Regions from separate parts of the Homo sapiens genome. Here region 2 is linked to region 1. Evidence: fine-mapped expression QTL. A gene starts in region 1. The other region holds a variant in brackets. All regions are shown on one strand. Distances are between the middles of the regions.

Region 1 (5,377 bases):
GAATTGACAGAAAAACATCTATTTCAACTTGAAATGTGACTCAATCATCTACTTCTGTGGGTTAACTTACAACTAAATCTACAATTTTTAGCAATTACAGTGGCATTTGATATGACATTTATAATAGTGCTATAAATCATTTTCTCATATTCATTGACACAGACATGTCTTAGAACTATTCTGATACAATGCTTAGAATACTGAAAGAGCAGTTTTCAAGAATATAAAGTAGTACCCACAGTTTTAACAAATGTACTGAATTGAAGTTTAAGCAAGTTAAGACAGAAAATAGAACTACCATTATCTACAATACCCAGGTTACATTTTCAAATTATCACCAAGCTAGAGAATCAAAAAGATAAGTATTGTCAAAATATCTTGCAGGGAATTACCAAGTGAAACTAAGCCAATGCTAAAACATTAAGTAATGGTGGCTTTTCCCTTCACATATTAAAAAATATTCCTTAAAAGGATGTCATCTTTCTGTAGTAAAATTCAACAGAAACAATATGCTTGTGAGCACATGATACAAAGCATACACCTGCAGTCAACGTTTAAGTTAAAGGGTTCATACAGACTGAAATGGGTCAATATTATTGTGAAGAAATTACTGGTACTGCCAATACTATGTTAATTTTTAAAAACCGTCCAAAAGTCTTTCACTTACGTGTAATATTATTGTCAATTATACTCTACACAAGCCAGTGTTACTAGTGTTTGGCCACATCTACAACCAGTTTCTTAAATTAAAAAAAAAAAAATCAGATCGGTAACAATTTCACACAAGTTTTCTACATTCCACAAAAGGGTATTTTGTTCAAGTTTCAGGAGTCTTTCAGCCACCAGAAGTGTTAGTAGCGCTTTCTGGAATGGAGTACCAGAAAGCAGGCTGGCTACAACTGTTAATTGTCCAGTTGAAGTAAAGAGAAACATCTCCATAATTACCGAAAATGCTTGTAAGATTTAATTCTCCAATATGACCACACCAAGTTTGCTGACATCCATGTTCACCACAACATGTTTATGCATACACTCTTCCCTGATTATGGTTGTAATCGAGAGACTAATAAGGCCTGTATCTGAACAGAACCATGTTCAAATTAAATGACTGTAAAGTGTTTGAGGATGCGGGCGGGTAATTAAAGACGGTTAAACACGATTATAATCTAATGTAAACAAGACACAAGACCCCCACCCCAGTGAAACACGCCACCATACAGGCTTGCTGCAGTTACACTAGTATCACGTTAACCCGAATCATGAAGTCTTACCTTCAAAACAATTTCATTAAATAACTAGGAATGTGTACAGCACTTGACATCATATAACGTACTATGATACGCAGCAGGAGATATCCACTGCCACATTCTGGGCCCTCACTCCCTGCCCCGCACAGTCTCGATCACTGCTGGGTTCACCCTCTTTTTATTCTATCCACTTACCAAGAAGCACAGCTGTGGCCAGTTGTGGATAAAATATCTATAGGTATAAATGGAGTAGGGTTCGGACAGATCTTTGGTGATCAGTCTCATGATATCGGGCATTTGTAGCTCGGATTCATATCGGACATATCGTATCGTCCGATCCTCCCCAGGCTCAACCTCCCTGCCCGAAGGGCTTCTTAAGCTGCAGTCGGCGGTCAGGGACGAAGACAGCAGCCGCACCTGCTCGTCTTCCTCCTCCTCCTCCTGCTCGGTGCCCTCGGCCAGTCCATTGCGGGCCGCCGCGGGATCGCTCGCCGCCGCTGCCTCCACCGGGCTGGGGACCGCAGTTCTTGCATTACTAGAGAGGGAGTGAGGGGGCCTCTCGCCCGAGTGTACCCCGGCTCCTTTTGTTGCAGTCGCTCTGGGGCCTCCGTCAGGGGTGGCTGTGGTCGCGGCCACCTCTGCTACGCTCAGGACCTTGCTCTTGAGGGAGGCGGCCGCCCGGAGGTGCCGCAGTTCGGGGCTAATCAATCCGTTGAGCTGCTGCTGCTCCTGCGGCGGCTGAGGGCAGCGGAGGCACGGATGCCCCTTGGCCGCCACCGTCGCCGACTCTCCGCCCGCCGGGCTCCTGCTGCCGCCGCCTTCGTGCTCTTCGTCGTCCTCCTCGTCCTCGCTGCAGCAGGCGAGGGCGGCCCCCGCCGGGAAGGGACAGCGGGGCTCGACCGCCGCCGGGGCCGGAGGTGCTGGTGGTGGGAGGAGGCTGCTAGGCCCAGGCGGTACCTCCGCCATCCTAGAAGCGACACAGACCGAGAGGGGAGGCCATGAAACCCGGCCGAGGAGCGCGGAGAACAGGGGGCGACGGATGGGGGGCGGCCGAGGTGGGGGGAACAAAGGCAGAAACCGTCCCTCACGGAGCTGCCCCCCAATTCCCCGCCACCCCCCCGCTCTTCAGCGCCGCCCAGCTGCTCAGCCGGCCACCGTCCCCGTCCGCCCGGGCCCACCCGCCAGCCCTGTCACTCGCGGCCCCTCCTCACGGCTCACCCCGCACGGGTCCCCGCCGCCGCTGCCGCCACTCCTCTTCCTCCGCCACCGCCGCCGCCTCCTTCGCAGCCGCGGCAGCCTCCACAGCCGCCAAGGTTCTCACTCAGCCGCCGTCGCCGTAAAGCGCCTCAGCTGTTAGGCCGGGTAAAGTTTCCTGGGCCTGGCTTTACGACACTTCCCTGCCTGCCGGCTGCCCGGGCCAAGAGAGAGGGGCGTGGAGGGAGGTGACCTGTGGAGGGGCGGGGACAAAGGTGTCTCCTGCGGGCTGCGGGGAAGGCCGCGTGCTAGTGGGTGGGGCTGTGGGGCCGGGAAGTTGCAGAGGGCTTTGGAGTCACAGGCTCCCAAACCCTCTTCCTCGGTTTGGGGGCGCCTCAACCTGCGGTGCTTGCCACGCGGGGCCGGGGAGGGATGGACCGGGCAGGCGCTCCCTGCTTAAAGTCTACCGCGCACTCCGAGCTGTAGCGAATCTCGCCAATTCGGGGCCTGTGGAACAAGCCGTTTACAAGTCACCTAAAAATGCCCTTTTAAAGCTGCACAGCGTTTAATGTTTGCCCTGACCAGGGGCAAGGAGGATGGGGGAGGAGCGATTAAAAATGGAGCAAATCAGAGAAGCCGACCGAAAAAGAAAGGAAGATTTGAGCTGTGAAAATATGGGGATGGCTGTCGAAACGTGGTGGTTTGCAGTGTGAATTAAGTTCAGCTGGCCCTTGCCACTTTGAGGCAAGGGAGTCAGCCCTCTTCCTCTCCCTCCTTACTCTGCTCCTCGCACCCAGTAAAATTGGAGGCAAAAGTGACTGACAGGTGTTGGGCAATTGCTAGCACACCTGGGGAAGGGTTAGAGAGAGGTGGTGAAAGAGAGTGACCAGGGCTAAGAAGCACACTCCTAAACTTGTGACACAAATAGGTTAGGAAGCACTGGTAAACAGGTGGCCTGATCCTCCCAGGGGATCTGCCTATCGAGTGCAAAGGGGATAGAACTTGAGCTTGTGGCTGGGCGCCTTCTGCTCTAGTCCACAATTGACTCCCGGCAGGTCTGAGCTGAGACAGGTAGTGTAACTCACCCGCTCACTGAACAAATTCGGTTTTGTTAAAAACCTGATTTATAGAGCTGGTCTGGTGTGCCGCAGATGGACGTTTTCAATATATAATTCTATGACGGAACACGTTTGCAACTTTTTGCCGTAATCTAAACTCTATGTATAAAGTATTTATTATGCTCGCAGATTCTGTGCCTCTGAAATCCAGACAGAGCACAACTGGGATGGCTTTTCTCTACTCCATTATGCGTAGAGCTTCAGTTGGAAGACTCTAAGGCTGAGGAGTAGAATTATTTGAAAACTTCACTTTCACCGCTGATGGTTGATGCAGGATAAAGGCTGGAGGCCTCAGTTCTAGTCCATGTAGACCTCTCCCGGTGGTCTTTTAGCATTGATTGGTTTGGGCTTTGTCACAGCCTGGTGGCTGGGTTCCACGGCAAGTATCGTGCGAGAAAGTCAATCAGAAGCATATTACCCATTATAACCTAGCCTTAGAAGTCATGTAGTCTCTAGCCAGGTGCGGTGCCTCACGCCTGTAATCCTGGCATTTTGGGAGGCCCAGGCGGGAGGATCTCTTGAGGCCAGGAGTTCGAGACCAGCCTGGCCAACACAGTGAAACCTCATCTCTGCCGAAAAATACAAAAATTAGCCGGGCGTGGTAGCTCATGCCTGTAGTCCCAGCTACTCAGGAGGCTGAGGAGAATCACTTGAACCCGGGAGGCGGAGGTTGCAGTAAGCCGAGATTGCGCCACTGCACTCCAGCCTGGGCAACACAGGGAGACTCCCTCTCATCAAAAAGAAACAAAAAACAAGTTATGTAGTGTCAGTTCTGCTGCATTGTATCTAGGCAGACACAAAATTATATCCAGTTTTGACAGGAGGGGAAATAGACTCTACTCTTGGTGGAGAGAGGCAAGGTTCTCAAAGAGCATATGGGACCAGAAATATTGCTGTGGCCATTTTCAGAATGTATAACTTGCTACAGATACATTGAAAACCTCCTAAACACCTTGATGTGTGGGGGATATAAATGAGATGTATAAGTACAGCGTGATCCCTTTTCTGTCTTTTAAAAAGCACAAAACAAAACCATGTTTCCAAATGTGCATACATTGTTTAAAGATACATGTTTTTCAAAGTTTCTAAGTGTAACCTGGGTAGTCAGCCAATGAAACAATGATCTGTTCAAATCATGGTGGAAAAACTGGCCCAAGAGGCACCAGATAATTCCATAAGAGATGTTTAAGGGTGAATTTTACTTAGAAAAATACCTCTCAGTAATTTACTTTTAAATGTAAGCCCTTCCTAAAAAGCATGTACCTTCACTGTAGTGAATGAATGGCAGCAGGCCTTCCTGTTCTTTCTGTGTTGCAACTTGGCATTGAGCTCTGTCACACTGAGGAGCTGACCAGATGTTGTCTCAAAGTGGTTTTCAGAAAGTCAAGAGTTGTAAGGACCTTCTTGAGGCCAGGGAGTAAATGTTAGTCACTTTGTATTCACATATCAAACACATAAAAGGGAAATTGTTAAGCTTTTTGACTGAAGTACACCAGTCTCTCATTCAGTAACCTAGAATGCTTATAATGACAAAGTAAATTCTGACCTCCTCAATAACTAGTGGGGTAATTCTAATGTCTCAGCCCCAGTGATTTTTCTTTATATCCCAGTATTAAAATTACAATGTTGGCCTTCTAAATCAGATGACATCTCTAAAAAAAATTGCCTTTATAACTTATGAAATCTTTTCTATTTGATTCATGTTTACTTGATAGGATGATAGCACTATTTTAGGCATAGAAATAGGATTAGTTCACTCTAATGCTTTAGACATATTTACTATTATGAGACTCTGAAAAAACAACTACCTCCATGAGC
Region 2 (5,377 bases), 210 kb after region 1:
CTATTGGCTTTGTTATTTTATCATACGGTCTCCCTCAGAATGACCAATCCAAATACCATCATTGAAAATAAGACATGGTATTAGGGCTGGATTGAGATATGCAAGCACCAAGTGTGTTGAAAATCATGGTTCAACATTTGTTTAGTGAGGAGTGATCAATACTGGCAAGGATGTTTTGTCTTGCTTTGTTTTGTTTTGTTTTTATTTATTTATTTTTATTTTTTGAGACGCAGTCTTGCTCTGTCGCCCAGGCTAGAGCGCAGTGGTGCGATCTCGTCTCACTGCAAGCTCCGCCTCCCGGGTTCACACCATTCTCCTGCCTCAGCCTCCCGAGTAGCTGGGACTACAGGCGCCCGCCACCACGCCCGGCTAATTTTTTGATATTTTTAGTAGAGACGGGGTTTCACCGTGTTAGCCAGGATGGTCTCAGTCTCCTGACCTCGTGATCCACCCGCCTCGGCCTCCCAAAGTGCTGGGATTACAGGCGTGAGCCACCGCGCCCGGCCTGTTTTCTTTTCTTTTCCCTTCTCCATTTTAATCTCTTCTGAAAGGTGATCTACTTTAGTAGAAATGGAACCATGTTATATTTTGTCCTTTGTGTTAGGATGCATAGACAAAGAACTGAGTTCACTGACAATATATTTCCATGGTTTTTGTTTTTGTTTTGTTTTGGTTTGTTTGTTTGTTTGAGCATTTCTAATATATAAGTGCCACAGGTATTTGTCTGATTGAACCACCCTATAATCTGGCCTTGAATAAAGAATGATATTATGACAAGTGCCACAAAATGTCTCAAATGCCAGTGATCTACTTGGCTCAGAGATTCTTAGCCCTAGTTTTGAATCAGCTCATTTGGGGAATTTAAAAAATCTTCAGATACCCAGCATCCAATCTCAGAGTTTCTGATTAAGGAGAACTGGAGGGTTGTGGTTGACACATGTACTTTAAAGTAGCTCAGTCCTATGAATCGGGATGAGAAGACTGTGTCCAGAACTAAGGAGACAAAGTACATACAGGCCTCTTCTGTGTCTGGCATATAAATATAAATACAAACCTTCCTTACCTTGAAACCCCCTAATTAGGATGGCAGATAGAAAAAGACAGTAAAGATTTATTTCCAGCCTTGTCTGGGGGAGAATGGAATCTGACTGTGACTATGCAAATCATTTGCACAGACCTATTCAGTGGTTTCACAAATTTGGCTTTTTATTGGAATCACCTGTGGTAGTTTAAAAACGAATCCGCAAAAACCATAATCTGAGTTCATGGGCAACACATTTCTGTGGTATTTTTAGCATCCCTAAGATATTGATGCCACGGGCTCCCATCCCTGGTGATTCTGATCCAATTGATTTGGGGTGTGGCCCAGGTATCAGGACTCTTGAAAGCTCCCAGGTGATTCTAATGTGCAGAAGAGTTTAAGAACCACTGGTCTGTTTGAAGAGACTGCATCAGACATGGAATAACTGACTCTGTTTGGCAATTTCCTTTCAACGAAGGTATCCTCTTGGATTGCTCTTTCTGCCACTCTCGAAGCCTAACTCTCAGTAAGCAGACCTCTGTTTCAAAGGCAAGAAGAAGGGAGTGCAGTGAGTACAGCTAAAATGTAGGATTCTCTGGTTTCCTAGAAGTTCTAGATGGGACCTCTGGAAGATTTTGTGGAGGCACTTTTTTGATATGTACCTTTGCTCCATCCTTATTCTCACAAAGAGAGCTCCTGACTTTGTAAGCTAAGGTGTTAGGCTGGCCAAGAGAAGTAGTCCATTTGACAGTCAAAGATCTCAGTAAAACTGAGTACGGCAGGGTTATGATTTATGTGGTAGATTAGTATGCGCCAGCTCACGAGGGCCTGATCACCCTCTGGTGCAGTAATAAAACTCTGATTCAGAGCCTGCAAAACTGAGAACCAGACCTTGCTTTCTCAGTGATCCTAACAAATTGCCATCCTATGAGGCTTGTCAAGAAAAGGACAGCCATCCCAGGTCATCTTTTGTAAAGAATGACCTGGGAAGCATCTCCAAAGCATTTACTCTGCTAAATAAATCAGGGCACTTTGCTCCCTTAGCTGAATGCTGAAAGTTATAGACAGGGATTTGGTCAGACCTAAGAAGGAAAAAAACCTG[T/C]CATCATGGAGAGAAAAAAGAAATAACTGAAGGATCTGTTTGCCACCAACATGAACACCAGTCAAAGGATGGTGTGTCTGAAAGGGAAACCATGAGACAGAGTGATTCTAAACCAAATGCAGGTGTCTGAATGACCTTCTCATTGCTGAACCCATGAAGCTCACTAATTAAGATGACATCCACCTCTGCAGGGAGTAATTTCAACAAAGGAGTCTTCTCTTCTCTCTCTAACTCTTCCTCTTTTCTTCGTCGATCATGTAGCCTGCCTAAATGTCCCACTACTAAGGCTTGTTATGATATAAAATACAAATATTTTGGGAAAGAGTAATATAATAAGCCTTCTCATGAATGTATGTATAGTGATTTCCAACCCTGGCTACATGTTAGAATCACTTGGAGGAGAGGAGTTGTTTTTGTTTGTTTGTTTTTAAATACTGATGCTAGAGCTTCACTGTCAGAGATTCTGATTTAACTAGTTTAGGGTGGAGCCTGGACATTGTTTTGTTGTTGTTGTTTTAAGGTGATTTTTAATATGCAGCCAAAGTTAGGATCCATTGGTCTAGAGTGTGGAAAACATCGTATTCTTCCTGGAGGGCAGATTTTTATTGGGAAGGAAAGAAAACTGAGTCTTTAGCCAAAAGGAGGTAGGAAGAAGTACCTGGGATTTTTATAGGAGATGGGGAAAGTGGAGGTTAGGAAGAGAGGTAGTGCTGAAAATAAACTTTTATTTGTCAGTTTTGCCTAGGGCTGGCTCTGACTCAGGACATAATAGCGATAAGAAGCAAGGAGGAGAATCAGCTTATGAGAAAAGTGCATCTTCATAAATACATTTTTTTTTCTTTTTTGAGAGGGAGTCTCATTCTGTCGCCCAGGCTGGAGTGCAATGGTGCAATCTCGGCTCACTGCAACATCTGCCTCCTGGGTTCAAGTGATTCTCCTGCCTCAGCCTCCTGAATAGCTGGGATTACAGGCACCCACCACCATGCTCAGCTAATCTTTGTATTTTTGGTAGAGATGGGGTTTCACCAGGTTGGCCAGGCTGGTCTCAAACTCCTGACCTCAGGTGGTCCACCTGCCTCAGCCTCCCAAAGTGCTGGGATTACAGGACTGACCCCCTGCTCCAAGCCATGAATACATGTTTAAATCTGTCTCAATAAGAATTCTTTTAATTATTCTTTGAGTTTCCAACACTGGAAGCTGACCACCTTCAACTAAAGCAGTTTTAGTTCCTATAGCACTTGTTCTTCCTGGATAACTCTAAAATAAAAAAATTAGCAAGATGGAGAATTAAAATATGCCTCTGGGAGAGTGGTGAGTGTTCTGCTTAAGGATCTCTCAGGATAGTTTATGTAAGAACCTTTAAGTGTGCTCTCAGAGAAATAAGTCTCAATCTGTTATTGTGAAATGACTATGTAAACATCTGTCTGTTTTTTTTTTTTTAAAAAAAAAACATTCCAGTTATATCTTGTTTTTGTTTGCTTCTCTATCGTTTGCTGGCCAAACAGCTTGCCCCTTGCCCTGTTGTCTTGTTACTTTGCTTGGCATGAAGAATTTTAATGAGTTTTATTGGTTGCCCTCCTGACTTTTGTTCAGAACCATTTCTCAGGGCTGCTGTTGTACATCTGTTCCTCGGCCTCTGAGAGGCAGTGTGGCATCATTCATCGAGCTTGTGCGGCCTGGGTTTGAATCTCGGTTCTTTGACCTTGGGCAAACTTTATTGGATTTCCATTTCCTCATCTGTAAAATGGGAATGATACTAATACTACCACTCACAGAGTTGTAAGAATTGAATGAGAACACATATGAAAATTACTCTGTCAACCACAGCATGCTGTGCAAGGGATTTTTCTCCCCCTTCATTGGCCCATCCCATGGGGAAGAACTGTTAAAGTTCTTCAGAAGCACATGAAAAAGGCTAGACTATTTGGGGATATTTTTATGGCATCAGCTCCTGGTCTATGCAGCATTTCAGAACAGAATTACTGAGATCATCCTCTAGCCTGCCTGAGGTCACAGCTCATGGGTCATTGGCACCAGCCTCTGGGAACATCATCCACTGGATGCTCTGCCCCAGAATCTGGCATCAGATTTGTATGGGCTACTGGGTTTTGTTGATCTCACTTTAGGTAGGGTTCTAGATTAAGTCACTCTAGCTTGTGATAATCAGACAGTGAGCTGTGTAGATTTTGAGGATGTCGGACCAGAGTTTCCTCTTAGAATCAACATCTTAGCTGTAGTCTACTCATCTCTCAGCCCTTAAAGGACCCCATTCTTGATATATAACTCCCTGGGGATATGAGAGTCTACAAGGCATCAATCAAAAGCAAACTTCAAGCAAGAGCTTTATTGTTAGGATTTGCGGTTGTTCATCAATATTACGTGATGGAATCTGACATGTAAATACAATTCAGGAGGAAACAGGAGTTTATATTTTCCCATTCCAAGGCTTTCCTAGTGTTGATCTGAAACAGCAGTGATTCTCAAAGTATGATGCCCAGGCCAAGCAGTATCAGCATCAACATCAGCACCAACATCAAGAGAATGTGTTAGAAATGCAAATAAATCACTGGCCCCACCCCAGATCTCTTGAATTACAAACAATGAGGGTAAGGCTCAGCTATCTGTGTTCAGCAAACCGTCCAGGTGATGCTGATGCTTATTAAAGTTTGAGAAGCACTGATCTAGAAACTGTGGCCACCTGTGTTTTCTTTTGGTTCTTTAGAAGTAGGGATGATGACCTTCAGGGGGTTCTCTCAGGTACCTTCATTATAGTCACCCCCTTGGGGAATTAAGCTTTATTTGAAATATATTGGTTGCTGTCTACTATACTGATAAAAAGTTGTAAACTACTTGAATTTGCAAACTATGTCTTTTCTTAGAGTCTACCTCGATTCTTTTAATCCAGTGAATCCCGGGGCAAAACTTTCAGCCTGGTTGGTATTAGAGGGAGAGGAAGACAGTATTAGGAGGGTAAAATGAGGCATTGTCTGGAATTCTGTAGTTCACGAATGAATCCATTGAGGAGTGGGAAGATGATTGGGATGCCAGAGAAGAAGTAAGAAGCTGTGGGTCCTGTTTACCTAGATAGTTGGCTGTGACAAAGGACTGGTTTGATTAGAGTCATAAATTGTTTTTTAGGCCAGGCATGGTGGCTCAGGCCTGTAATCCCAGCACTTTGAGAGACTGAGGCAGGCGGATCACATGAGGTCAGGAGTTTGAGACCAGTCTGGCCAACATGGTGAAACTCTGTCTCT

What was found.
Region 2: its variant is fine-mapped to the expression of NAA30 in whole blood (GTEx, PIP 0.97).

The regions. Positions count from the first base shown.
Region 1 is chr14:57,387,794-57,393,170 of GRCh38, reverse strand. It overlaps NAA30 (N-alpha-acetyltransferase 30, NatC catalytic subunit), which reads right to left and starts at 2,585. Exons shown (of 5, transcript NM_001011713.3): 1 at 2,466-2,585; 2 at 1,443-2,214. The coding sequence starts at 2,213. RefSeq lists silencers at 2,058-2,207, 2,338-2,477 and an enhancer at 1,606-2,601.
Region 2 is chr14:57,181,380-57,186,756 of GRCh38, reverse strand. No RefSeq gene overlaps it. Among named protein-coding and RNA genes, the nearest start is that of EXOC5, 85 kb to the left of the region's middle. The variant T/C (reference allele first, on the strand shown) is at 2,124.